Linked DNA regions of Homo sapiens: all the other regions are linked to region 4. Evidence: fine-mapped expression QTL. A gene starts in region 4. Each other region holds a variant in brackets. All regions are shown on one strand. Distances are from middle to middle. Region 1 has its middle 43 kb from the start of UBE2E3. Region 2 overlaps LINC01934 (long intergenic non-protein coding RNA 1934). Region 3 has its middle 250 kb from the start of SCHLAP1. Region 4 holds the start of UBE2E3 (ubiquitin conjugating enzyme E2 E3).

What was found. PIP is the estimated chance that this variant, and not a neighbour inherited with it, causes the effect. A credible set is the group of variants that fine-mapping cannot tell apart.
Region 1: its variant is the best candidate, but not a certain one, in a credible set for the expression of UBE2E3 in lung (TOPMed, PIP 0.58).
Region 2: its variant is the best candidate, but not a certain one, in a credible set for the expression of UBE2E3 in gastroesophageal junction (GTEx, PIP 0.76).
Region 3: its variant is the best candidate, but not a certain one, in a credible set for the expression of UBE2E3 in whole blood (INTERVAL, PIP 0.55).

What each region holds. Positions count from the first base shown.
Region 1 is chr2:180,934,093-180,941,643 of GRCh38, forward strand. It overlaps the pseudogene RPL27AP3. Among named protein-coding and RNA genes, the nearest start is that of UBE2E3, 43 kb to the right of the region's middle. The variant G/A (reference allele first, on the strand shown) is at 4,526.
Region 2 is chr2:181,348,313-181,355,863 of GRCh38, forward strand. All of the region lies in intron 3 of LINC01934 (long intergenic non-protein coding RNA 1934), which reads left to right. Among named protein-coding and RNA genes, the nearest start is that of MIR4437, 46 kb to the left of the region's middle. The variant C/T (reference allele first, on the strand shown) is at 3,855.
Region 3 is chr2:180,438,363-180,445,913 of GRCh38, forward strand. No RefSeq gene overlaps it. Among named protein-coding and RNA genes, the nearest start is that of SCHLAP1, 250 kb to the right of the region's middle. The variant T/G (reference allele first, on the strand shown) is at 4,159.
Region 4 is chr2:180,977,166-180,984,716 of GRCh38, forward strand. It overlaps UBE2E3 (ubiquitin conjugating enzyme E2 E3), which reads left to right and starts at 3,440. Exons shown (of 6, transcript NM_006357.4): 1 at 3,440-3,808; 2 at 4,853-5,071; 3 at 6,878-6,928. The coding sequence starts at 4,878. UBE2E3-DT (UBE2E3 divergent transcript) reads right to left here and starts at 3,847. Exons shown (of 2, transcript NR_187176.1): 1 at 2,901-3,847; 2 at 165-2,501. RefSeq lists a silencer at 2,858-3,717.

The DNA.
Region 1 (7,551 bases), 43 kb before region 4:
TCAGCAATTTTTAGGGGTTGACTAGCTTCTTCAAAATGTCCTATGGGCAGAAAAATAATATACTTCCCTGCAATTTGTCTATTGATATCTATGTAATACAAAAAGTGAAAATAAACATTTGGATATATAATAGTCTTGGAAATAAAGACAAATATCTAATAAAATCACAGACCCTGAGAGTGGTAAGGACCTTAGACACCAGCCCAAAGCAGAAATGTGTTGTAATAGATTGTAGCCAGACTTGGCTTAAACCTCCAACAATAGAGATCTTATTTTCTCACCAAGCAGTCCTTCCGGTTGTTGTACAGATTGAGGTGTTATCATAAAGTTGTTTCTTTGAGCCAACAATATGCCTTCTTTTTTGCTTTCACCCGCTGATTCCTGCTCTGCTCTCTGGAATGACACAGTGAAAATAATCCCTGTAACAACATTTGACAGTCCTTTAGATATTTGAAGACAGCTATTAAGGTTTTCCACTAGTCTGATTCCTAAGTTTAACCTGTCTCTGTTCCTTCAACATTTCCCATAGATCATAGTTTTCTGACACTGCCAGCATCTGCCAGTCCCATAACAGATTGTAGATGTCTTTCTTGAATTAAAGGGGAAGAGGGTGCCGAATTGAGCAAAGTAACTTTTCCATGTATCTAGTACATTCCAGGGATTGCGCCAACGTTATCTGACTATCTCAGAATGAAGGGATTTACACTTTCCATAATATTCTTATTAACCATGTGGTCAACTAAATACTCCAGATTGTTTCACATGAACTGCTGTCTGATTGCTTTTTCCTCCCATTTTGTACTTACATATTTGCATTTCCACGTCTAGACTGCAGACTTTTATTCCTGCCAAATTTCATCTTGTTGTTTTGGTCTGATATTTTTGCCTGGAAGTATAAAGTTGGGCAATAAAATTTTGAATCTTGAGTCAACCATTGCCAAGCTCTTAGAATCTAATAATTATGTCTTCTATTTCCACTGATGAAAGTGTTGATCAGTAGGGATTGAGGAAAGGAACTCTCCAGTCTTCCCTGTTTGCCTGCATTCCAGATTGAAACAGAGATATGAGTGATACCCTTATCTTGCATATTTGTCCTTAGATAATCTTTATAAAGCCTTTTAATACTACAGTCTTATGTAAACTCACAGCCACCTATAAGATGGACTTGCAGGCATTATTATCTTTGTTTTACAGATAGGGATACTTGCAAGGTCATACAGCTACCAAACAGCACAGCTAAGACTAGAACATAATCCAATTCTTCCTCCTCTATACTATTGCATCTACCAGCAGGACTCATGCTTACCTTGAGGAAAAAAAGTAGGCTCTATCTTACCACCACGAACTACCATTGAAATCCAGACAGCATTAGGAGGAAAGGAAGGTTCTCAATATCCTTTAACCTGACATGCACTATGTCCCTGATAAACAAAGCAAGCCAACATTTAAAAGTAATCTCTGGGCTATGATTCTGCTTACATAACCAGCATATCCATAAGGTTATTATGAGAGGTAATTCTTTTTTCTGAAAACATTATACACCAATCTTAACATTCCACTCCCACCAATCTAATAACTGGTAAAATATGGTAACATATTTTTGAATGTTTTATCCTAAAAAGACATGTAAAAATGTATATTCTTCTCTAAATATGAGTCCTTTACATAATAATTTGTTCTACCATTTCATGATAGATAGGTTCATATTTTTCTGGAAGAAGGACATTATTAGGTGCCAAGCTTTCAGAAACCTATACAAGACTCTATGATGGTTTGGAATATTGCTAAACAGGAGATAGTAGCTAATTGATGAAAGTTTCTTTGCCATCCTGACAGGAATCTTTATCTGCATATAGAGACTCAAATTCATTTTTAGTTATTTTCTGATTACCTCCTTACATATATTGGTCTATGATTGCTTCTCTAACTTGATTTGTCTTATTATTTGGAAATTTTGCCCTTTTGTAGCAAATATGAAATCAAAACAGGTTTTGGATATTGTTACTTCTAGAGACCTGAGATCATTTGTCTCCAATGTAGAGTCTAAGGCATTCTTTTTACTCTTCTTCCTGCTCCCAACATAGCTTAAGAAGTCACTTAGGCTGCATTTAGTAACTTTTTTTCAAACTCTCAAATGTATTCTGAGTTTTAATCTTTCTGACATTATTTCTAGATGTTTGTGTTTCTCTTTTCAATTAGAGATTATTTTTGAGTTTCTTCTTTCTTTTTTTGCGTCTCTTAAAGTGAAAGAGATGAATCAGAAAACTCTTTATACAGCGATACTGATTTTTTTTTACTAATGCTTCCTCATTTTCTTTTTTCTTTGAGTTATTTCTTTTTAAATTTCATCTTTTATAGATCTCCAACCCTCAAAATTTGTTCAAAAAAAGAAGGAAATCTCTTACCCATTACATACCATATTCCATTTTTAGAGTCTCTAAGTTAGAGGTGTATCTGTGTTTTTACTGAAATTTTAGAATTTCGGTTCTTTCCTAATTTATTACATTTTTTATACCCTTTGAGTTACTGGCAAGAACAAATTAGCCAAGAATATGGCCAAGAATACCTTCATACTACAGAGAAAATGTAGTGATAAATGGGTTTGACCAGATGTTTTCCTCTTTGGTTTAAGCAAAAAAACTGTGGAAATACTCTTCCCAATCCATACACATTTTGTATAGATAATGCCTTGGCAGCACCAAATGGGATGGAAAAGGTCTTTGTAAAAATAAAATGTTATTCAGTGAAGTTTGATTACTATTATTTCTGGCATGCCAATATCTTAGAATTATTATTTCATGTGGTGGAAAATTTGAAGATATGTATAAAAATTATTAAATTCCAAATACATGCAGACTTGATATCTTTAGGAGCTGGCATTTTCTGTGCATTAAGGCCTAGCATATTGGTCTTATCAGAAAGCTGAATCCTAATATGAAGAAATAAGCCCCTATCATTGTGGGTTAGTTACCTCAGAAGCTTACCAGTTACTATGATGCTAACCAGAGACTAGGTTGCCAACATAAAGGCTGCTTCTACCAGAGTCACTCTACCCAGTGGTAGACAAGGAACTAGAACCTTGACAAGGAGAAATTCATTTTATTATGGTGAGATCCTTTGTGTACTCAGTATGGTAATTCCAGACAAGCTTGTTAGAAGATTCCGATCTATTTATTTCATCATGCAATACCTTCACTAGAAAATATTAATAAAAGCAACATATTAGGGCCTCATAAGACCTGTTCCTATTTCTCTCATTCCAGAATCAATAACATGCATGACTGTGTGTTCCTAACTCATCCTGGAATGATAGCGACAACCACATGAACCAACTTTTTTCCTCTTTAGAATTTATGAAGCACCTTACATGTGCTGTCTAATTCAATCCTCAGAACAGTGCTACCAGGCAGATGATATGGTTTGGTTGTGTCCCCACCCAAATCTCATCTTGAATTGTAATCCTCATAATCCCCACATGTCAAAGGAGGGAGATGGTGGGAGGTGGTTAGGTCATGGGGGTGGTTTCCCCCATGCTGTTCTCGTGATAGTGAGTGAGTTCTCACTAGATCTGATGGTTTCATGAGGGCTCTTTCCCTTTCACTTTCTACATGAGCTGTCTCGTCTGCTGCCATGCAAGACGTTCCTGCTTCCCCTTCTACTATAATTGTAAGTTTCCTGAGGCCTCCCCAGCCTTGCAGAACTGTGAGTCAATTAAACCTCCTTTCTTTATAAATTACCCAGTCTTGGGTAGTATCTTTATAGCAGTGTAAAAACAGACTAATACAGTAGGTGTAACTATTTCAATTTTACAGATGAGAAAAATCTTTGAAGGTCAATTACTTGCTTCAAGTGAAAGGCTAGGTAGTGACATCAGTGAACCAGAACATCAGTGAAGGCAGATCTCCTTCAATTTTAAACACATCATGTATTCTTTTTGTTATGTTGCAACTATGAGAAAATCTGTGGCTTCTTTAAAAATTCCATCAGAGGATTCAAAGAAGAGATAGAGGCAGAGGTTAATGGTAGCTTAGGTCTGGAATAAGTGGTATTAGATGAGAGTAAACCTAAATAGCAAGGTCCTCAACTGGAAAAAATTTAAAGAACTATTGTACAGGAGGATCCCATGATAAGAACCCTCCAATGACAAGAAATGTCAGTGGCTCCAGCTCTAGAAATCGCCTTTACTCTCAATTGGGATGAACTCTAAGAAGAAATTAAAAGACTAATTAGGAACTTTGGCTGCTGAGACATAGTTCCTTGGGCATAAATGGAGAAAGACATCAGATGATGAGAAAAGCAAAGAAAAAAATTCAGTAGTTTACAGTCATTATATTAGACAAGAAAGACAAAAGCTTTCCAATGTCATATCTTTATTTCTTTAGTGAACTACATTTCTGTTTGCCAAATATTCTTGTTTCCCTCCCTGCAATGTTCATCACTGCAGAACCCTTCCTGTGGGAAGATTATACATTCCCTGCCTATTGCACTTGAAAGTGATTGTGAAACTTGGTTTGACCAATGAAGT[G/A]AGAACAGAAGTGAGTGTGTGTGTTATGAGTGCAAGCTTTAAGAGCCAGCTCATGCTTTGCCATGTGTCTTTTCTCTTCTTCAAGAACAGCAACATCCTGAGCAGCAACAGCTCCAATCTATCTATTAAGGCTTGGCAGATTAGTCTTATCAGAAAGCTGAATCTTTTCTTTTTCAATTGTTAGCATTTAATGGACATCCCTCCATGTGGCTTCAAGCCACCAAGACCCCAACCCCACACCCCCACCCCACCTCTTTCACCCTTAATCGTCTCCTTGGCTCTTCTGCTGAAGAATTTGGCCTTCACAATAATAGCTGCTTTGGGAGCTTTCCCTTTCCCAGAACTTTTTAATTGCCAGGTCATACCACATCAACAATGGGAGCAGCTCCAGTCTTGTTTTTAGCAACTTTTACCCATGTCTGCTCCCTGACCAAAGTCCACAATTTGTCAAGATTGACAGCAGGGCAGAAGCTCTGGTTTCTCTTTAAGTGGTAATGCCTCATGCCAACTTTCCCAAAGTAACCTGGGTGATATTTGTCAAAGTTGATCCTGTGTGATGCATGCCACCAGCCTTACCACGGCCTCCTGGGTGCTTCCAGTGCTTTACTTTTTTACAGTGCAGCTGTGGCCGTGGCTCACATAGCCCAAAAGTTTCTGGGTCTTCCTCAGTCTGGATGGCATGTCAGCAGGCCAGACAAAAATAAGAAAGCTGAATCTTAATGATACAGTGTGCCTGAGTCAATCCTGGGACCCCTCTCCATTACATTCTCTACAATTATATCCTAGGTAATCTCATTCAGTTCCATGACTTCAAATACTAACCACAAATGAACAACTTGTGAACCTCATAAAGGTGATCTTCAGCATCAGCTGCTCCTCTGAATTCCAGGCTCATGTATTCAACCTCTCCTCTTACATGTCAAATAACGACCTCAAACTTAACATGAGAAAACCTACCATGTGAATTTCTGTCAAGTCTTCTATTATCTTCATATTTTCTTTATCAGTATAGAAATTTCCTTTCTCTCAATGTTTACACAAAAACCTTGAGATCATCCATGCCTCATCTCTTTTCTCACGAGCCATATCCCATAGGCAAACTGTGTGAACTCTACCTTCCAGTCATACCCAGAGTCTGACTGTCTCCACCTTTATCACTAGAGTCTCAACCATCTCAGTCTCTCATCTGGATTATTGCAATAGGCTCCTACTGAAACCCTTCCACCTGGTTTTTAGGCACTGTATACTCCACACATGGGAGCCAATGGGATCATTTGAAAATAGAAGTTAAATCATCTCACTCATCTGAACTCAAAAGATAAACTCCATATTCATTATCCTACCCTTCTCTTAACCTCTTGTTCTCCTTCACGATTTCTTTTTCTTCTAGGATCTTATCTTTCATCCTGTCCTTCATCACTACCCTCCACATTGGCCTCCTTTCTGATCCTCAAATAAGAGAGGCATGCTGCCACCCCAGGCATTGCATTTGCTTTTCTTCCTGGAAAAGGTTATTCCCAAGCTATCTGCACACTTTAATTCAAGTGTCTACTGAAATATCATCTTACCAGAAGTCCTTCCTTGAGCACATTATACAAAATAGCATTTAATCTTCCGGGGAGAATTCCCTGGCTGAGTGTGGAAGCATGCTGCATGTGATTTGGGCTGGTCACTGCCAAGACAGGGTGAGTCTGAGCTGGCATGGAACCACCCCTCATAGCTTCAGCTGAAATCAGGAGTGGGCCACATGGATGTGAAACACACCCTAGAAGCATTGATTAGCGTTGACATGGAGATATGATGACAAGTTTTTGCCCAGTTAAATGAAAATTTGTTTATAGATGAAAGCAATTAACTGATGAGGCTACTAAATGAGACTTGGAGAAAATTGATTACTGACTGAGGCAATTATTATAAACTAATTGACTAATGAGGACTAATTCTAGCAATTTTACTAAGGTATAATGAGGTCATTTCCCTAACTTCCTCATAAATTTTATTATTTTGTAAGCCATTGCCACCCATACTGTTTTTGTTGTTTTATTTTGTATTTTTTGAATTTAGATTTATGTGTTTAAATTTTAAAAAGATAAATGCTTTATATAAAAAAGCTATAGGAAGCTATAAAGAAATGAAAACTTCACCATATTTCTTATCCTGCTGACAGAAGTTAAAAAAAAATATTGTACTTTGGTGTGTAAACTTTCAGATTTTAAAATTTTTCTGTTTGAATGAACATTTACTTATACATAATATTTAAAATAAACTATATCAACTGTTCACTAACTCATTTTTCGCAAATGCAATATACATTAGATCCTCTTCCATCACTACAATAGATTCCTCATTATTTTTAACAGCTGTATAGTATTCAATTACACAAAAATTCTTTAACTGATTCCTCTAATAAACATTTAAATAATTTATAATTCTTTATTATTAAGAATGATGCTTAAACACCAAAACGATAAAAAGCAAAGTGTGGTGTTCCACATACGTACTACACAGATTCTGGTTTTGAAATGTTACTCTCCACTAAATGGAGCCAGGGCTCCTCAGAAAAATGGCTGATTCCACAGCTGGGACAATGAGAATGAGCCTGAACCATCTTGTATCAGAAACTAGGAAAGTGTCCTAAAAATGATCAAGCTATGTCAAAGGGACATGTAAGCTAACTTAAAGCAGTCTCATTTGCTATATCTGATATAATTTGAGCACCAAAAAATTATATCTTAATAAATATTGTATTTGTTAATATTATGTTAATAAATCCTCATAGAATATTTTTTCTTGAATTAAATTAAAATCCATTATTCCATACTAACACAAAGAAAAAAATAGATTAAAAATGAGAATCTTTCTTATAGAAAGTAAACAAATAAATGTAGAAGAAATGGTGGAATTAGAAAATCTGTATTTGGCAATCATCATACTAATAATTGATCTAGGTATACATCATTATAGGATACTAAAATGATTAGGTGAAAGTTTGAGGGGTACCCAAATATTTGTATCTTTCAACATAT
Region 2 (7,551 bases), 370 kb after region 4:
ATGGGGGAGGCTATGCATGGGTGGGGACAGGGAGTATGTGACAAATTTCTGTACCTTCCTCTCAGTTTTGCTTTCAACCTAAAACTGCTCTACAAAAAAAAAAAAAAAAAAAAGACTTTTTTTTATACTCAGAGTTTTTTTTTTTCTGAGATTAAGTTGGTTCCAGTGATGTGCATTTACTAACTTCCCCTTTTCTCATTTATTTAGAAATAATATACAACAAGATGTACCTCAAGAATCCATAGAAATGGAGCAAATGAACAAATAATCAAGGGCTACTCCTGTCATTATAATTTTGTGGCTGACCTGGAAGTTATCTTGGTGTAGCTCTGTGACTATTTATATAACCTACTCCTAGCTTCTCTCATTCTCAGGGTCTCTATTCTTAACCACAACTATTTAAACAATATATTTATTGGCAATTCTAGATGACAGATGGACATGTGCTAAGATGATCAGTGTGCACATCTGATTTTTCTAAATAGCCCACAGTAAGTGAATAAGTGAATGTTCAGAAAATATCTGCCATGCTAAATTTAAGGTTCTCGTGCATATTTTATTTAGCATTACAAATTGACTAACAAAATTAAGTAGGGAAAATATATATCAGATCCATGATGTTTTGTGAATAATTGACTAGCCACACAGGTGCATAAGATTTCAGATGAAAATTCCTTCTTTTGTGTGGAATATGTACTATTAAAAGATTATAGGGGGAAATTCCATGGATTCCTTGTCATCCTTTAGAATAACAAGATTTTGTGCATAGTTTATTAAATAGCCACCAGTTTTCTAAATTTTTTGCCATTGTTATAATTTTACCTATATCACACTTATTCTAAGAAAATAAAATTTTATCACTTATTCTGACAATCATTATGCTTAAACAAAACTGCCTCTATTTTCTTCTGTTCTGGGGAACAGGTTGCTGCTTAAGCATAGCACTCTATCCTTGCTTTCCTATAGCACTCTGCACTTTCACCTTGTAGCACTTGACACAATTATAATGGTATAATGACTCCTATAATGATTCATTTTATATTTGTCACCACCACTCAATTATAAACGATATGCAGTCAAGGTTCATGGCAGAAGTTTTTTAACTCATGCTATGGCCTCAGCCCAAAGTAGATAATCAATGAATATTTTTTTTTAAATTAAAGAATGGATAGACAGAAGAGAGTGGGGAATCCTATATCTTCCTCTACTCTTTGCCTTAGCTTTTCTAGGACTGCTGTGAGTAGTTGGGGCTAAAAGGAGGCAGAGGGGACTCAGGCAGCAAGCTCCTCTGCCACCAAAACCTCTGCTCAATCTGTGCTCAGTCCCTCCCACTTTGGCTCTGGGTGTCAAATATCCTGCCATTGTGGACATAAACAGATGAGAATATGATTACTGTGAGACCAGCAAAAGTTTTAGTGCGCTGACAAAAATAATAATAATAATAATAATTGCTTACACACATGGTCAAGGTCACTCTCACACCACACACCAACATTTAGGTAGCACACACTCAGCCCCTTTTGTAGACAGAATTTATTGTGGACAACTATACTACTATGAGTATATCCTTAACCTTTTGAAGTTGACCTCAGGGAGGAGAACCAGGAGGATAATTTACACAATTCTCTTTAGTGTAACTATCAGAAATAGAACATAAGATAGCTGGAATACAATTCTAGCAGTGTTTTATATTTTACTGTTTTATTCTGATTATTTAACATAAATAACTCGCCACATACAGTACAGCTTAAAATAAATCATTAGAACTATATATGTAACATACTAAGTCTAGGTGGGCCCAGTGATGAAGCAGATACAGGGGCTTCAACAGACAAGGTGAAAATAGATTAAAATGAGCATTAACCACTATTTAAGGAAATGTATGTCAAAAATCAGGTTGTAATAATAAAAATAATATTAAATAGTCATGATGACAGTAATCAAATCTGATGATGGAATGTGGACTCAAAAATACCTAAAGATTAAAAAATTCAGGCCAGGCATGGTGGCTCATGCCTGTAATCCCAGTACTTTGGGAGGCTGTGGAGCTCAAGACCAGCCTGGGCAACATGGCGAAACTCCACCTCAACACAAACAACAAAAATTAACCAGTGATGGTGGCATGTGCCTGTCGTCCCAGCTACTCAGGAGGCTGAGGTGGGCGAATCGCTTGAGGCTGGAAGGCGGAGGTTGCAGTGAGCCGTGAGCCGAGATGGAGCCACTGCACTCAAGTCTGGGCAACAGAGCAGGACCCTGTCCAAATAAATAAATTAATTAAATAAATAAATAAATAAATAAATAAATAAAAATCAAGCAAGAAAATTCCTAATGGGATGGAAATGCTAAATGTTAAATAATAAAGAAAATTGCATATTATGACTTGGTGATTCAAATATTATAATGAAATAATTTATAAGAGATAGTAGAAGAATAAGAAAGTATGTGTTGCTAGTTAAAGTCAATCAGTCAAAAAATATTTTGGTCTTTTTCATCTATACCAACCCTGCAATAACCTTTTAAATGACTTTCCCATTTCTGATTTCTTTGCTAGTCCATCAGGCTCCTTTCTTGACTCTGTGTTTAAGTCATTTTCTCCGTTTCACATGTTCATAAATTTTAAGGCCCAGTTGAATGCTAACTATTTTCCATGAGGTCTTCTCTGATCACTAGCTATTAGTAATGTCTCCCTCCACCAAACTGCCATAGAACTTTTTCAGCACCTCTCTTATTTATGACTCTTTGAACTTTCTACTTTGTAGTTTAGTGACTAATGTACATTTTTTTAAGTTCCTTATTTGTTCATAAACTTTGGAGAGTGCAATTTCTCTTTGACGGCATACACCACACAGTTTATTATACTATTCAGTACACAGCAGGTGCTCAACTGGTAAATGTAGACAGTACACAATTTTCAAGAAAAGTTCTTATACATGAGATTCCAGAGAGCCTCCACACTTCTCTTTTCTCCCCAAGTTTCCTTCCCTGCTTTTCTAAACTTGGCTCTGAGTCCCCATTCAAGACTTAGCTCCTTAGTGGAGCTTCCCCTGACCCCCACATTCAAAGTTGTCTCTTCCCTGACAAAAACTCATCTATTCAACATCTAAAAGGTTTGAGTCTTCATGTGCTACCTTGTGGTAGGTCACCATTTTTATGTTTATCAACTATTACCTGCCTCCCATTCAAGATTGTAAACTTTTTGAGAGCAGAGATCACATTTTATACATTTTGGTACTTACTGTCATTTAGTACTATTTATATATTTAGTAGTTATTGTCAGTCTCAGAACAGTGCTCCACGTCTATTGATTCTATTTTGTTCCCGAGATATCCTAAATATCTAGAACACTATCTGGCACACAGTAGGTGGTCAGTAAGTATTTGTTGAATGAGGTTGATAGATGATTAGTAAAACTTCTCAAAATTTTGAGTGAAAAGTTGACTCTTTGGCAGAAACTTCCAGGAGTTGATTTTAGAGCTAAGAAAAAATAGAAAGCAATGTCCACTCTTGGTAGAGCTAGGCAAAAACAGGCAGATGAAGTAGACACAGGTGTCTTCTCCACAATCCCCATTTCACTTTATCTTAGGCATGTCTCCTTCAGGAGCCACAGCCAGATCAGAGAGGCCTCCACTTGGAAATGATCCATCTCAGTGGTGTGGATGGATTAGACCATTTCTCCCACAACTAAGTGGTTTTTCTCTGGCCATTCTGAGGTATATGCCATGTGTCTCCTTCAGAAATATCCTTTTTCATGTGATGATTTCCAAAATATATTTTAGTCACTTCACTTTGTGTTTAAGTGAATAACTATGTCTCCATTCACTTATCATTAATAAACATATAATAATTCACCTAAT[C/T]ATGGAGGTGTTGGTTAAGCCAGCATATTTTGAGTTCATGTAGCCAAATACAGTGGTATTTAGTCACATGAAAGTTTAGCTTAGAACACAAATATGTGCTTTTTTTTTTCTGTTGGAGCTCTTATCTTGCAACATCCTTCCTTCTTTTCTTCTTTCCTTCCCTCCTACCCTCTTTCCTCCCCGCTTCTCACCCTCCCTCCACTAGTATCTACTGAAGCCCTTCTATGCAAAGCACAATACTACTTGCTGAAGATATAATGAGGAACAAGTCAGAAGTGTCTCTTCCTGTTCTACTAGAATTTACACTCTTAGAAGAGATGCAGACATTCAATTACTATTTTTTACTATTTTAATTCCAACTATTACAAAAGTTGGACAGATAAAGAGGGACAGATAACTATGGGAGCTTAAAGGAATCTATCCTGGTTTGGTGGGAAAGGGATGATAGATTTCAGTAGTCTGGAAAGGGTCACCTGAAAAAATGGTGTTAAGACTGAGTCATGAAGAGCTAGTAGGAAGGGAGGGTGGGAGGAAGGAGAGAGAGAGTGGGGAGTATTCCAGGTAGAAGAAAGCAAATGTGTGGCCTTGAGTGGTCACTTCTCTTTGGCTTATCGTATATATCTATGAGCTAATGAGAATGAAAATTCCTTTTTTTTCAAATTGTTAGGTTAGCTTAAAGAGATATTGACTCATTAAATACAAAACACAAGAAGACATTAATATAAAATTGTATACATTTTTTAAAGCCTATATTTTCTCCCTTGAATTAAAAATAAAGTGCAGCATGTTGAAATGTTGAACCCTGGCCATATGACAAAATTGGAAGTCTCTCTTTGCTTACACCTTGGGGCAGAGGCAGGCATCAGACAAAGTCCTTTTTATTTTGTATCCTTAAGAGTATTTCAAGGTCAAGTTAAATGAAAAACTAGTCATTGGCTCTGTTAGATTTTCAAATATATCCTCAATAAAATGTACACTATTAATCATTTTCATATTGGTGATTTTAATCAACTTTTAAACCATTACTTTTTAGAAAAGTTTTTCACAATTTCTGGTTTCTAGGGTAATTGAAATTTCAGTATATAATTATAGTAGTATAAATATGATACTTAAAAGTATTATTAAAGGTCATTAAAATATTTTAAAAAAACTGGTAGGGCAAGAAGACTTTACTACAAGTTAATGAAATGGGGGTAATTTAGTTGAAAAGAAACAAAATGATTACAAATTAAAGATTACTATTCTGTGGCACTCTTTCTTTAGTTGACAGTGAATAAGGTAGAGTTACTATATTTTTATTCATATTATGATTTGGCCCCTTTCTAGAAAAGTGAAAATTTTATGTAACTCTGATACATGGAATATATTTTGAAATTAAGAAGTATATGTACATATATTAGTCATTATTATTACTGCAACTATTCCTAGTGAAAAATATACCTCATTCAAAGAGAAAGATAAATTTCAACAACTGTTATATATGCACACTTTTTGCCCATAAAACTAAGCAAGCCTAATAAATTAAAATTTATCTAAGTCACAACCATCCAATTAGGGACACTTTCTTGCAATCAGATTACAAAGGATATTTTTATCTCTTTCAATTTAGCAGTCAGGTTAGGGCTCCCTAATAGAAGGCTGCGTAGCTCATTAGTCCTACCACTTTGGATGGCCTTTACTCTTAACTTCATTCTCCGTAACTCAAGGGGAGTCAGTGTGTAACTGTGGGTGCAGAGCAGCAATGAGGATGCTTGAGTCTTCATTCTGAAGGGATCACCTGTGGAAAGAATGATCAGCTTTCAGAAAATCTCATCTGGTTAAGTCATATTTCTCTGCTTTAAAATGTTACAGGATTTCTCATTGCCCTTAGCACAGTTTCTCAAACTTTATTGAACATCAGAATTACTTGAAGGGTTTTCGAACTCATGAATTATTCGGCCTTGCCCCAGAGTTTCTAATTCAGTAGGTCTTGGGTGGGGAACATACTTTGAGAATTCTGACCTATAGGATAAACACTAGAGTTCTTATTATGTCTTACAAGGCCCATCATGATCTGAAGGCAGCGGTGGTTGCTGGTGGAGGATGTGAGCTTTGGAACTGGAGCTCTTTGATTCAAAGCTCTGCCGCTTACTCACTGGATAAGACCATGATCAAGTTATTTCATCTGAAAAATTGAGGTAATAATAATATCTCCCTCTTAGGGTGGTTATGAATATTTTATGAGATAGTACTTTTTAAAATAGGTAGATTCCAGAAGAATATCAGCTATTAGGATTATGATTACCTCTCCGGTTTCTTCTCTTGGTTGGATGTCCTAGTGCCAACCATACCAGACTACTTCAGACCATAGTAACATCACGGTTTTCCATCCTTGAAGCTTCAAATGTTCAGTTTTCTCAATATAGTTTCTACCCTTTTCCTACATCTTTCCCACCTTCATCTAGCTAACTCCTACTGAGACTGGAGAGCTCAGCTTTTACGTCACCATTCCAGGAAAGCCAACCTAGCCATGGTTGTATGTACTTTGCCATTAAAACACTGATGTCCACGTACATGTTTGTATCTGTCTTCTCTACTGGACTACAAACTCAGGAGGGTAAGAATGATCTGTTCACTGGTACAGTCTCCATGCCAAATAGTTGCTTAATAGGTATCTGCTGAGTACATGAATGAATCATCATTCATGCTGTCTGTGGGATTCTGGTCTGGGCTCACAAAAAAAAAAAAAATGAAAGTTTAGTATAGAACACTGGAGTGGAGAGATCTCTGCCCCTTCACTGGAAAAATATGCCAAGACTGGAACTGAATGACAATAGATACCTAGCACCTTTTGCGAAGTTATGAATATCAGAGGCATATGACATACAATATGTCTAGTCACATTATGTTAATACAGGGATTTTAATTTCTTTTATATTTAGATATGTCATTCTACTACTTAAATCTTTAAAAATACTAAAGCTAAGAAGAGCTCTGGGAAGGAAACACAACATAATAGTTTCTTTAGCAGCTTGGTATGGCTATTTTGTCTAATCAGCAGCACAGTGGTTACAAGTATAGATTCAAGGACACAATACTGCTTGTATAACTTACTTGCTGATGACTTTGGCTAAGGTTCTTAGTTTTCTGAGACCAGATTATTTTCCTGGTAAAATGGGCAGAATAGTAATTATCAATTAGTATTATTACAATTGAAATTAAGTACACAAAGCTCTTAGGCACTTATTCCTAAGAAGCAATCCTGATATATTTTAGCTATTCATTGTTTTATGATGTGGCCATTATAGTGTTCTTCTCATGGAGATTCAGTCAAAAACTAATCGTGTATATGTCTGCTTTGACTTGATTTTATAAAAGGAGAATGAATTTCAACATGTAATCAGAGTAGAAATGGAAATGATGAGCAAACAGGGTAAAAACCACTTCAGTGATGAAGTCTATAGTAAATCTCCATAAAACTGCTACTCGGAATTATTTGGGGATCTCTAAGTATAAAACACATAGAATCATGTAAACGAGTTTGATCAGTGGTAAAGTTTGGCTGAGTTTGTCTTTACTGAACTAGAGTAACATTTGTTTCCATATTTACCTATGGAGCAGGGTGCTGGGTTTTGGCACAAGACAATCACCAGTCTTACATTAGCTTTCTGCTATGATCCTTTTGTATGGCATCAGATAGTCAGATGGGTCAGATGAC
Region 3 (7,551 bases), 540 kb before region 4:
AACTCAAAAGCCCCCTTTCCAGAGCTTATCTATTTAGAGGTACATCTCACCACCCTTGATGTCCTAGACCTTGTTCTGCTTCACCTGGGATTCTTGAATCTCTTGTATTTTAGTAATTATTTATAGTAAAACTGTCATTAAGACCTCTGAGTCATGTGAATCTGATCTGATAATCCGATGCTGTATGTTAGCTCATTTCTTCAACTTATTTTAAAGAGGTTCATCTTAGTTTACCCTACATTAACAGCAATGAACTCTTTCCAGGAATTTTGTGCCTACTTCCAAAATATGGCATACTGATATGTTTTTGACTTTGACTTCAACTTTTCATGATCAGGATTATATTTCTATTTTGGGAAAGATATTCCATAGATGAAATTCCACAGTGAACTGATTACAAATGTTTCAAACACATAATTGATTTTTTATATCCATGGATGCTATTTGGACAATGAATGAACTGCCTTTAGTTTCTTACTTTACTCATTCTTTTTGTTTCTGTCATCTTCTTACATCTCTAGAATCATTTTAATTTTAATGTTTTTCATTTTCCCTCTCTGATATTTAAATTTTATTTGATATTCCTGATATTAAATCCTGTACACAAAGTTTTATTTTTATATTTTTTTCTTCCATGTTTAGACTAGTCCAGAGCTTGCTTCCTGTTCTTGTTTGGGGAATCTACTTTTTCTGGTTGATGTCCAATGACTACCTCACTTTATTCTTACCTCATTAGTCTTTATCTCTTTTCTTGCCATTTTAAAATGCTAATAATTTGGCTTTCTTTACTTAGGCTCTCCTCCAGAATCATCAGTGAGCTAACTTAATACAATTGGCATTAATATTCCTAATATCGACCACAATGCTAAGTGTTTGAAGAATTGGCATTCATTTTTGGCTAGATCTAATTATAAACACAGGCCCACTAGATATGAAATAAAATCAAAAAACATTCACAAGGCACTGTTCTGGAAACTGGAGAGTAGAAAGATTATATTATAATGGCTGTGGTAGGAATTGAAAAGGGAAGGAAGATACTAATCATTTTAAAAGGCAAAGAGAGAAACAAAAGAAATAGACACTGGTAGGAGAGGAGGGGAAAAGATTCCTTTTTGATTGGAAAAAAATGGGGAATTTTTCATGGAGGAAGCGTCACTTGAGCACTGAGGAATAGTACATGGGTAGAGTCCAGGGACAGGAGAGAATAAGAGGAAAGGGAAGGGAAAACATGCAGAAAACTAGCAGAAGAATACTAGAGAAAAATGCTGGATATTTAAGGCTCTTTAAGGGTCCTTAGGTTACTTCACAAAGAGTTGTCATAGATTGTCACATGTATTGGTTCTTTTCAATCAGAAAAATAAAGTTTGATCATTCTGCAAATATGATGAGGATTTTAATGTAAAGCAAAATTTTGCTGGGTATTTGAACAATCGTTGAGTCAAAGATTCCACCTTTGAGGGGTGAGGGTAGTTGTGTTAGTAAAAATGTGTAAATGCCCCTTGTAAATACAGTCAGCTCTCTGCCCTGCCCCTTTTCTGCTCCTTAACTGGCAGCTAACAGTTAATTTCTACTTACCTAGAATTGACTCGGGTGAAGAATGTATTCAATAGTATTTTCCTCCAAGGACCATCTTTAACATGATAATAGGTCAAAAGTTTATAGATTCTTGAACATTTTATTCTTATTATTCAATATCAAACTAGGACATAATCAAAAGCTTCATTAATAAGACATCATCTACAGGCCAGTGTTAAGTGCTAAACTTCAGAAATATGTCTCTGCTAAAATGAGCAAAACAAGCCAACAGATAGTAAAGGTCACAGACAAATTTAGCACCATGATTTTTTATAAATCATGTTTTATAAAATGCAAGTACAGATATTTTAGTATTATGGTTTTTACCACTAAAAACCACACCATTTAATCTGGACCTTTGGGAAATCCTGTGTACTACAGAATATGACCACTTGTCCCCAGCACTGCTGCCATCGTCCTGGACAAGTCCCCATCATCTCTCACCTTTATCATTGCAATAGCTCTGAACTTGCCTCCCTGGTTCTAATTTTGCCTCTTTTTACTACTCATAACATCAACTGGAGTGATTCTGCTGAAGCCTGAATAAGATCCTGCCATGTCATCTATGCATGAAACCCTTCTAAATCTTCTCTGCTCCCTTAGAGTAAAGCCAATGTGGCCTAAAGGTATATATGACCTTCCCCTCCTCCCCATTGCTTTTCAGAACCTATTCATTACACTTTACCCTCCTTCACTCCTCAATGGCCACACTGGCTACCTTGCTATTTCTTACATGTGCCAGGTTGAATCCTGCCTCAGGGACTTTGCAATTGTTGCCTCCACCCTTGAGGGCTCTTCCCCAGGAGGAAGCCCAAATCAACTCAAGTTGTCTTCTCAGTGAGATCTTTTCTCAACACAGAATTTAAACATCACCATTTACATATCTCCATACCTACTCTTCATATCACTCCTCTGCTTTTATTTTTATTTTTAGAACTTTTTGCTATTTAATGTACTAGTTTTATTATTGTTAAATGTATTATTTCACTTTCTGTCTCCCTGAGTAGAATGAAGACTCTATGAAGACAGGGGTTTATATGTGTTTTGGTTGCTGCTGTATCTCTCCAGTGCCTAGAACAGTTCCTGGCACATTATAGATGCTAATTAATCTCTTGGATGAATGAATAAATTAATTTTATTCATTATAGAATCCCTGTTGGCATACATTTTGTATGCTAAATTATGGATAAAACATTTTAATTTTTTATTCATCCTACAGCATGGAGAATTATTTACAATTCAAACTTTTTTTTAAACTCCATGTAGTGCAAGGTTTTCAATACACTTTGGTGTAAAAATGTTTCAGATATGGAAAATATTTCTTAAAATTCAAAATCTTTTAAGGAAATTAAAAGACAGTAGAATTTTTCCTCTTTGCCTTCTGACTTGGGTGTTGATGTTCTAGCAATTAGAAACTTCATTAGTGGCCATATGGCCAAATGATCTCATTATGGACCTTTGAATTAATTTGCATTTTTATTATGCTTCTGCTTCTAAATTGTATGTACTGTGTTTGATCATTTGTGTACTTTTCAGAGAATTGGAGAATTCTTATTTTATTGAAGAATATATATTTTTAGATGGAACATAAGTAGTATGTGCATTCCAAATTTAAAAATTTTTTAATCACTAGATTATTAACAAAAACAAAAATAAAACCAAGTTATTTGTTTCATTGGATATGCCTCCTAACAATTTCCATGCACTTTTATGAGAAAACCTCTAATATGATAACATTATTTGTTTAGTACGTCAGTTTGGTAAAATTAAAAGAAAAGAAAACTATAAGTTGTTTGTGTCTTTAGGGTAAATTAGTAAGAGTAACATGGACTCCTTAATTCCAGGAAAGTCTCTGAACACTTCTCCCCAATTTCTCTATCACCTCCATACACACACACACAAATTACATATAAGGCCAGGAGGTACCCTCCAACTTGAAAAAAATAGAACAAGACCATCTGTGGTATGGGAGAGAACGGCCCTTCCTGTCCTTTAGTTTCTAGATCTGGCCAGTGACGAGGAAGTAGAGTATTAGAAAAGGTTTAATCATCTCATGGTTTGTGGGCTGTACAGGCTTTTGCTTCTGGGGAGGCCTCAGGAAACTTAAAATCATGGTGGAAGGTGAAGGGAAAGCAGGTACATCTTCACATGGCTAGCAGGAAAGAGAGAGAGAGGGAAGGGGGAGGTGTTACACACTTTCAAACAACCAGATCTGGTTGGAAATCTATTATGAAAACAACAAAGGGGACATCCCTTCTAAAGGGGGAACTCCAAAGGATTCAATCACCTCCCACCAGGCCTCTTTTCCAACACTGAAGATTACAATTTGACATGGGATTTGGGTGGGGACACAGAGTCAAACCATATCAGAGGACTTGGAGATTCCCAGAAGGAAAACAATCAGCCAGGGTAGGAAATTAATAAAATACTCCCCTCCCCTAGTGAATTTTACTATCCAGGAAGGAAAAGGATTGGGTTTTCCATGGGCAGACACAGAGATAGACTTTGAAATACAAAATTAGGGCTCAATTCTTGTGAGACAAAGAAAAGAGGAAGCAGGATTGGCCAGAGGAAGAATTTGAG[T/G]GTCATGTATGCCTGACGATGCTTGGGCCAACCTGTCATGGAGCTTCAAGGTATTATTGGTCAGAGTGACCCATGCCAGAGTGAAGTGTCTGGGCCTTTCTAGCCAGGGCTTACTCAGTCACAGAATGTGTCTCAGTCACAGAATGTCCTAAAAAGGCCATGATCTTGGGTGAGGCTTCCTCTCACACCTTCTCTTGGATCACTCAGTTTGAGGAAGCCAATTGCCATGTTGTGAGGTAGCCCACTGGAGAGGCTCACATTGTGAAGAACCTGAGGGACCACATCAGTAAGCTTGGAAGTAGCCCCTCTACACCAACACACACAATAGACCTTTCAGATACACTTGCAGCCCCCAGGTGATAGCTGAACTACAATCCTGGACAGGACTTGAGTGAGAGGCACCAGCGAAGCCATGTGCTAATTCATGATGCACATAAATTTGAGATAAAATTCTTGTTTTATAAGCTGCTAAATTCTGGGGATAGCTTGTAAGCAGCAGTAGATGACTAATCAGTTGAGGCAACCCCAAGGCAGCAAGTCCTTACTTGAAGGAGGATTTGGGTGGCACATCTCTATATCTGTCATAGTCTACCTGTTTTGTCATTTGTATACACATATATTTGAGTAACAGCTCCTCCAGGATTCTGGTGGGCCACTTTTCCTTAGGGGAAATAGAAAAGAAGGAAATTAGCAGAACTAACTACAGTTGCTCTGCTATGGTTGATCTCAGGACCAATATTGCTATTTACTTTATTTCTCCTATACTAGTCATTTTAGGTCCTGCACCATCAGGCACTATGTCTGCTGTCCTTGGTCATGTGTCTGGTAGCATTACTCAGACTGTCCTCCCCAAGAAGTCTGATCTATGGTTACCATGTCCTCCTCATGCCTGCACTGCTGGATCTGTCCATTTACACTTACAGTTGGGCAAGGGATTACTGTGAGGCACTCAACCAAATCATCTGAGTGTCACATGTATTTCTCACTGTCTCCACTGTATAGCAGCAGTCCTAACCCTTAATGATTTAACTCAGTTACTCCTGCTGATATGGTGACTCCTTTTTTCCCCCAAATCTCCAGACAACAGTCATACTAATAATTCTACAGAGCTTTTATTTTGTCCTCTGGTGAAATTGTGACCTTTTTATAGATCAGGGCCTTTAACTCTACAAAGCACCGTTGCAGGGACAGGAAGCACCAAGTTCAAGGATCTTTATTTACTGTAGTACAGGAGCCATTTCTGCTTCTACTTTTTGGTTCTGGAGCCCTTGCATTCTTATCAGACACACAAAGCTGCACAAAATCCTTTGATTCAGTGTGAATACTGCATATCCAGAGAATGGCACCCCAACCTCATAGAGCACTGCCTCTGATTTGGGCTTTAGCTACTCATTTAGCAAGCCATTCCAAGGCTCTATTAGACTAGCAGCATCTGGAGAGAGCTTGTGATACAGCCAGTGAATGTCATGGTATGGGCCCACAGTGGCACTTCCTATGTGGTAAATGGTCTTCTGGTCTGAGGAAGTGTTGTGTTAGATTACATATTAGTGGATCAGAAATTTCATAATCCCTCAGCTAGAATGATGACTAAGGCTTTTGGGCAGAAAAAGCAAATTCATGTCTGGAATACATGTTAAATCTAGTCCTGTGAGCATAAAAGAATGGCACTTCCATAATGGAGGTGGCTTGTACGACTGGTTGGACTCCTTGAAGAATGGTGTTGCATCAAGGGCTCCACACTGATATCTGGTGTTGGTAGGGTAGAAATTCAGCAGCTAAATTGGACTTCAAAGGTGGGAGTCCATGCATTGGCACATGCATAATCTCCTTTTCTGCCACTGTGGTCTCTTAATTCATTTTTTCTCTTAGTCAACACTGGGGAGGTTGAATACAGAGGTTGGCTGACACCAACTGCTTGAGTTATTTTGTGTACTTAGTTGATTAGAGTCTTCTGTGATTGATATTCCTTTGTAAGCATTGACATATGACATGTATATTCCCATTTCATGCCCATTCCCATATGCCCATTTCATAGACATCCCATATATATCCATCTAATAGACATCCCATATATCTAACACAGCCTCCTCATCCCCAAACTTTGTTTTCCTTCCATAATCCTGAAAAGTCAGATAGGCCTTTTACCATTGCCCAAGAGTCTGAATACATTATAACTTCACTAATTTTATCCAAAATTAATGAACAGGTACACTATACCTAATATGTTTTTTAGAAGTATTTTCCTTCTTCAATGGGTCATACAAGATCCCCCATACAGCTATAAAAATCAGCTGAGGGAAGGGTTCAGTGGCTGATTCCAACCCTGTTTTTGCATAGTCACTTTCATACTATGATGGGTTGCTCCTGGGTCTACACTAACTTATAAATTGGTGGGTCTCACAGGAGTTAACTAATGATGGACAGTTCTGGCCACATGTTCACTTGGTGAACTATAGTCAGGCATTTCATTTTTACCACAGCTCACTAGCCTGCCTGGAATTATTTTTCAAAAGATGTATAATTGTGCACTGCAGATGGCAAGACTTTGCCCTAAAATTTCAGGGGATCTACTTTGTGGTTCTTCCACTTGGACTTACCATATGACAACTTTTCACACCACTGATACTGCCTGCACCACAGAGCGAGCCAGATCATATGGTCCAAGTGCGAGGGCTGCCTGCACAGCAGTTTGGACCTGTTGTGGAGCTCTTTACTTCTCTGTACACCATTTAAGGCTGACAGTCTTTTATATCATTCTGAATATAGATGTGGAATGCACCAATTTCAGAGATGGAAAAAGCCTACCAGTGTGGTTCTTCTTTATCCACGGTGGATGTACAAGCTATGATAATTTGTATGTTACTTTGGAGAGGATGTCTTGCTACACCTCTAACCATTGAACCCCTAAACATTTTATGGTTGTGGTAGTCCCTAAAATTTATTTCCTTCCCTTTAGAGCACGCATGACTTATTGAGGCCTCACGTATACCAGCCACCGCTTGCTCATCTGGCCCAACCAATAAAAAGTTACCAGTGAAATGGGTCAGTTGGTATTCTACATGATATCTAAATTCTCCTACACACATGACACAGGGCCAGAGAACTAGGATAGTACCATTTTTGGTTATGCATTTCTATGACACTTGGGATATTGTATTGCATTAACTACCTCCATAACTCTTTTCAGCTCAGGTTCTCTTGGGTGCAACCCTGACCTGCCTAATTGTTATAATGATTACAATCCTTTGGTTTCGGAAGTTAAATGCTGCTACCTACTTTTATGTTTTTTGGGGTCCTGTTACCCCTGTTGCTGTCAATAAGCCAATTTATGTAACAAGCTTTCCTATTGTCAACGTTGACTTGAAAAGGAAAGCCACCATTAAACTTTCTGGT
Region 4 (7,551 bases):
CCAAGAAATACCTTCCTAGTAAACCAATCCAGTCTTTATGGGTAGAGAAAGAAAATTTCTTAGCCAGAGAACTGAGGATACAAGTAACTGGAAAGCATCAGAAACAGCCAGTAAAAATGAAGGGACTCTTAGAAAAGTTATTGACTGGAAGGAAACAAAGTACCTTAAAATCAACAAAATAAATTCATATTTATTCTACATTTTTTACATGTGAGGGATGCTGCTGGTCATGGTGGATAAGTAGAGGTCTATACCCCAGCTTACATAATCATTCAATTCAGAAACTTCTTAGGTAACTCAGTGATAGATCCTGTGAAATTCTTAGTTATACATACTCACAGTTATGTACACAGATAACACTGAGACTCATTGAAAGGCGCAGGAAAAAGCATCTCCCAAACTAGGGAGGTGCAAAGGATTCTGGGGTCTGCCTTATTTGCCCTTAGGCAGGCCTCTTTTTGTCACAACATTTGGTGGATAAGGGGATAAGAGATAATCATTGTAATACTGCAATTGGATTCGGCATCTTCCCTCTTACCACTGCCCTTCTCAGGGTTGTGAGAGGCTGGCAGGACCCCACACCAACAAGAGAAAATAAAAGAGACTGAGAGGAAACAATCTTCTTTGTGGTAGCTGGTGTCTGCTTGTGGAACTATTCTGAGGGACCTTATGGGAAAAGGGCCCTTTTTATATTTTATGAAATAATTGCATTAGGTCAAATTTGTATGCTTCCAAGAGTGCCTGTGAAACATGATCCTTAATTTCAAGGATTGACATAGCAAAAACAAGAGAGAAAAAATAATTACAAAACAGGTTGTCACACAAGGAAGAACTAAACATTAGAAACAATTTACACCTTACAAGTTACTTCTGGTGGAGGTGATGCCAAGTCACCTGGGAGAGGAGCTGTGAGCTGAAATCATTTGAGCAACCCCTTGAGTCAGCTGAATGAAGGCAGCCAGGCACCTCACATTGTAGGGGCAGGGCACTACTGCCCCTAACCTTATGGAGCCATTCATTATCTTTACGGTGACTTTAACAATAGGTATTATTTGTTGAACACCCAAATTCCAGGTATTTTGCCAAGAGCATTATCTATATTATCTACATTATCACTGGCCCTAGTGCTCTCTCCAGGACCAATCTAATGTTTCCTTCTTTGACCTTTACCTCATGCCCCACAATTCCAACCTGAATTAATAGTTCCATTATTAGTTAATTGATGATTAGTAATGCTCTTTTCTCATTCTCTTTACTTCTTTAATACAGCACTTCTCATTCTGCAGGCTACGTTTCTGGCTGCCCCACTGCACAATTGAGCTTGGTTAAGAGCATGACCCATGTTTCACTCCAGTTTCCCAAGCAGTTAGTAGATCCTAAATATTCTGTTGGGTGAATGTTAAGTTAAACTCCATGACTTCAAGTTCGCCAAAGAATCACGGAATCATGGAATTTTTGAGCAGGAGAGGACTTAGAACCTTTGATACAATCTCCTTTTACATAAAAGTAATTGAAATAACTTAACTTGCCTGAGGTCATATGAACTTCGTAGAATGAGGATTAGAATACACTTCCCTGGCTTTTCAACCCAATACTATTTCTTCTGTAGAAGATGTTACCAAACAACTAAATATCTTTCTCCCCTAAGCTCCTTACCCCACTAAATCCTATCAGCAATTGGCCTTTGGGCCTTCAGGCTATTTCTGTTCTTAAATTTCCTAAAAGAACCCATGTTTAACGTACAGCTTTCCTTTTCTGTCTCCCCATTCCAAACAAAGCAAAGCTTCAACTCCAAATTGGCTGGCTTTTGCTGTAACATCACATCGTGTAAAGCTGGGGGAAAATTCTGCTTTTATTTTCACTAACAAGCTTTTCCCACAAGCACTCTTTGACCCAGCCAAATCAAAATGCTTGTCCACACACAGACCATGATCTTTTTTGAGGCATGAGATATTCTATCTGTTCATTCTGAGTGGAATATCCTTACTACTTATGAACCTAGCGAACTTTAATGAACTGTTCCCCTTCTGGACTAGGAGCTCTTAGCACAGAGTAGAGACCTGGCTTTAGTCACACAGCAATTGAATGAGTGTATGTCCAGCACCTAGCAACATATAGCCCTCAATAAAGTTAACTGAATGACTGTGTCTTTGGAAAATTATGGAAATGTAACTTACTCTTTAGAGTTGCTATCAAGCCTTTACCAAAAGTTTTCTATTAGGAGAAATAGTAAGCAAATACGTTGGCTCACTCAGTCTTTTCTTCTTTCCCTTAACTCTATACATCTTTTGACTGCCATTCTCACTCCCTTTGTGAACTGCACATTCTCACAGCACCCCTGCCCCTGGACACTTGTGGGAGAGGAATCCACAAATTCCTTTGAGGCTCCATCACCGGAACAAGTTCTCAGTAGCTGGAGAAGGCCTGGGTGGCAAACAGGAAGTTTTTGTATTCTGGCTACTTTGTGCCGTGGGGTAAAAACCGCAGAGTCCACCTGGAGACTGCAAAAAGAATGGTAGAACAAACAAAACTGTCACTATCTCCACCTAAAGCTTTTCTGGGTGGACATTCTGACTCAACATCACTCAGAACTTTTCTTTCCAGAACTGGCTCCTCATGTGCAAGACAGAAGAGTCCCGCAGAAAAGTGTCATGTTTTAGCTCTCATCGCCACCCCCCAACCCCAAACTCTTCTCCTTCACTTTTAAGAATGTTGAGCGGGACATTTTAAACACTGTTTTGGATTTTTAAGGTTTCAAATAATCCGAAGGACACTTCCCTTTGGCAGCGACAGTTGCAAGCTATGAGCCAAAAAGAAATAGAGGTTGTTCCCCTAATCTCCAAATACATTCTACCCTCTTCAATTCCCAGGACCCCAACTTGTCCCTTCCTCCAGCTTACGCGAGGGGCAAGTGGCAGCTCTTCTCCGCCTGCGTGCCTGGCCTCGTCAACAACACCCATTAGTCTCCCGTCTCCCGGGGCGGCGGGGGACTCCCAACCACGCGCCCAGGGCCCTTGCCCAGGTACTGGGGCCCCGGGAGCCACGACGGCCCCCGCGCAGGCGGATGGGATGGAACCAGCCCTGGGGACGCGGGTAGCCCAATGGGCAGCCTCGCCCCGGAGGCGGGCCCAGGCCGGAAGCCACCCCGCGGCACAGCGGCCCCGCGATACGGTGCCCGCGCCCCCGCCTTCTCTGGCACAGGCTCCGCGGCCAAGGGCGGCAGGGGCCAGCCCGCCGGGTCCCCGCCGCGCTCTTTGTCCTGGCCGCGCGCGGGCGGACGCGTGCACCCCCAGGGTGAGGGGAGGTGTGGAGAGCGCGCACGGGAGCGCGCGGGAACAGCTCGCGCCCGCCGGGCGTCGGCGGCGCGCGCCCCTCCGCCAGGCAAGCAGCGAGCACGCGCGTCGCCGCCGCGCCCGCCCCTCCCCCCCGCGCTCGCCTCGGAACTTGCTGACTGCGCGGCCGGGAGGAGCCGAGCCGGGCGGCGGCGGCGGGAGGCTACAGCGCGCGGGGGTCTCCCGCGTCCCCTCCGCCTCGCCGGGAGCTCGCGCCCTCGCCCAGCCGAGCTCCCACCCCCGCTTTTTTCCGAAGGCGCTGGGCGGCGCCACCCTCCGGCCGGAGCCCGGCACTGCACAACCCCCTCCGACTTTCAATGTTCCACACTCCCCGGCCAGAGCCTCCTCGGCTTCTTTTTTTCCCTCCCCCCCCTTCCCCCCCCCACAGCTGCCTCCATTTCCTTAAGGAAGGGTTTTTTTCTCTCTCCCTCCCCCACACCGTAGCGGCGCGCGAGCGGGCCGGGCGGGCGGCCGAGGTAAGGCGGCGGGGCCGGGGGGCCGCGTGGGGGGCGGCCGGGGCGGCGGCGGCGGTGGGGGAGGGGGCGGGGGCGGGCAGCTTTGTTCGCGCCGGGCGCCCGCGTCGCCGGTGTCCGCGAGCCGCGGCGGGGCCGGCTGGGCTGCTCGCATCACTTGGCGCCCGGCGCGGCGAGCGCTACCCGCGGCCCCCGCGCGGCCCTCCCCACAAAGGGCCGCGGAGCTGCGTGGCCGCCGCCGCCGGCCGTGGCTCGCCTCCGCGGGCGCGGAAATTTGTTGCACTTCTTGGGGCTTTGTTTATTTGTTTGTTTTTTCTCTGGGTTTCTTATTTTTTTCGTTATTTTGGACAAAATGTCGGTCCGTGATATAAAAATTGAGCGAGGAACCTTGGTGGCATTGGGAGCTTTGCAGAAGGTGCAGTTTGAATTCTGCTTTTCCCAGGGTGGCAGCTCGGTCTTGGCCGGATGAATCTTCGCTGCTGGCCGTGGAAACAGCTAGAGCAGCTCGTTAGTTGATTTTTAAATTTCCAAGTGTTGTGTTTAAAGGCTTTACGTGCACTGAGGAGGAATCGCCACCTTAAATAAGCATATGGGCGATTAACAGGGTGTGTTTTCCTCTCGGAAAGGGAATTTGGTAGCTTTGACCAATGTCAGTGTGTAAATATTTAGACGTTATTAGTGACTTTTAAACATTTTTCAGCGAGATCTGTTATTTACAGTGTGTCATATGTTATTAATGCTTGTTGCCTAAGTTCCTTGGCAAATCTGTTTCATGCCTTCTGAGAAAGTAGACAATTGATAGATTGTCCAAGAGACGGAAAAAAATGTGAGTGGGTTTTCTAACTTGAGTTCGGCAAATCCCTTAACGCTGGCGTTGTGTGACACATCACCTCCCTTGTACGTACCCCTGTTGTACGATGAAATAAGTGTGAACACTTTTGAAGCTTTTTCATTACAAGACGATTTTAGATGACTAGAAGAAAATGCTGTTGGTTTATTTCCTAGATTTAACATTTTCTCCTCCTCCTCCCCTGTTCTCTTTAAAAGTTTTCCAAGAGATAACTTCACCAAGATGTCCAGTGATAGGCAAAGGTCCGATGATGAGAGCCCCAGCACCAGCAGTGGCAGTTCAGATGCGGACCAGCGAGACCCAGCCGCTCCAGAGCCTGAAGAACAAGAGGAAAGAAAACCTTCTGCCACCCAGCAGAAGAAAAACACCAAACTCTCTAGCAAAACCACTGCTAAGTTATCCACTAGTGCTAAAAGGTAATGTGTAAAAGAAGGATCCAGCACACTTTGTCAGGTTGTCTTCCAGGTGGTTGGACGCTTTTGTTGGTTTTACCTCAATAGCAGTAGTTCAGAAATATTTACTTCATTATCAGTTTAATTGTACTTGAATGAGTTGTCATTCTTTAGGTGGTATGTAAGCAACATTACTAGAATTATACTTTTAAGCAAACTTAATTCTGTACTTCGGTAACTTCAGTTAAGAGTGTCCTTGAGTAGAGATTAGACTAACATTCTGACAGATTGTTTAAGGAGTTGGCAAGGAAAATTTGGTGAACCCAAATTAGATGGTACTTTGGGGATGTTCCTTTTATGAGTCATAATCTTCTTTAATGAAATTGACACTTCCAGAGATTAGCAGTGCCTCTCTTCATGAAACTTAATGATCAGAAATGATCATATTTGCTAGAAAATTTGCAAATTCAGGCCTTTGCTATATTTGAAAGCAGATTTAAAATTGTGCTGCAAATCTGCTTACAGTTTTACAAAACATGACTTTCAATCGTATATCACAGGTAACTTTCCTGGTTAAATTATGATTATCCCTTCCTGTGCTTGTGAGGGCAAATCAAACTGAAAAGTAGCCCTTTACAATTTGAGGTGTCACTAGTGATAGAAAACTTGCATTGTCCTTGGGCCTCTTCACTCTGAAACTTGTGGATGTGCTTGACAAGTTAATACTCAACAGCAGGAGAAACATATTTAATTGGATGTAAGTGAAAGATCATTTGTTTCCTATTGATTGATGTTTTCTGATGGAGAAAAAAAGATTCTGTCAATGAGACTCTTATCAGTGGTAGTAGTAGTGGAATATCCACAAACTCTAGTAATTATACATAAAATGTATAATGTTTACAGCATTAACCAATTTTGACATTTTGTTAATTTTTATTGATAACTAAAGGAAAAAGAATATAAAAACTGATCAAATATTGCATTCTGTGGTGATTCATAAATACTCATATTTTTCTATGGATTTTCACCCTTATTGTCTCAGTAATGAAGTATTAATAACTTGATAATATTTTTGAATGGCAGCAGTCTTTGACATAATTTAAAATTCTCAATTTGGTATAGTGTTGATGCGGAACATATTAGACACATCTAAAGTTTTGAAATCATCTTAAATTTGAATCAAATCAGAGAACTGCTTTTCTCCCCCTTAACTCAGGCCTATGTATTTTCTCCTCTTTCTCTCAATGTTTATTAAATTTAAGTGCTGTACCTAAAATCAGGGAAAACAGAAATGGTTAAATTAGAATGTCAAGTAGTCTTTGAAAGTTTTTCACAAGTAAAGATATTTGTAAATTTTAAACTTTTTTTTTGACAGATAAAATATTGTCAGAACTGTTAATGTGCTCTTGCAGTAGCCTGTTAATTTTTACCTCAGTAAAAGTCACTTCAAGTCCTTGTCAAATATTCCAGTGCTTTCCCTCCTCCCTTTTTGTCTCATTTGCATATAAGCTTGAAAAGAGAATTTCTTTGGTAAAAAGTGTTTTGAAATAGATATTATATTCTTTACTGAGTACTAGTGGATGAGTATTTCTCCAATCAAGTGTAAATGACTTACTTGTTTGCAGCAGCAAGTGAGAAAAAAAGCTGCAAAGTTTCTGTTAAGGGATTTGGGTTATGCCTCTGAGAACAAAGAGGAAGCAGCCATGTTAGCATTACTGAAGGCAGAGCCAGCCTTGCATTTAACTGCATGGTGGTAGAGGGCAGTGTAATTCCCTGGTTATTCTGTAGACTATATCAAATCCTTTTTGTCTCTTCTCATTTCACTAACAGAATTCAGAAGGAGCTAGCTGAAATAACCCTTGATCCTCCTCCTAATTGCAGGTAAGAAATGAATTTTGTTGTTTTGGTTTCAAATTGTGGAAAAATACCAAGAGATTGATGTATTGTCTGGATATGTGTGCAGCAGAGGAGACAACATTTGCTTCTTTACAGCTTTGCAAGTGCATTAAACAAAAATTGTAGAAGGTGAACTAGATAAAATTGGGAGAAAAAATACTTTTTAGCATAAGTATACATTGTGGATTTATGAATATACTGATTTTGTGCTTCTGATATTCATATGAATGGTGCTGATTTTTGTTCTGATGTATTTCTGTAGAGGGTGTTTTTTCAGAAGTATACTGAAGAAACTTCTAAAATTTTGCTAAGCTTTAAAGTTACTGCTTGTGTGTGCAATCTGAACTGACCTTCCACATTTAGAAATTGCTGAATGTGGTGTTACAAAATGTAAATGCAGTAAATAAGCATATAGTTGGTTCTGTTTGATTTATTCAGTTACTAGCCTTAAGGACAAATTTTATGGGCTAAGCTAATGGTTTTAGTGGTCGTTTTCTACAGAATGCATTGTTGGAATTATTTACGTTTTAAGCAAATGTCCTAATTGCTTGGGAACATTTTTAGTAATTTTGGTGGTTGGAATATGTGTATGAAAAGCAGTAAATGAA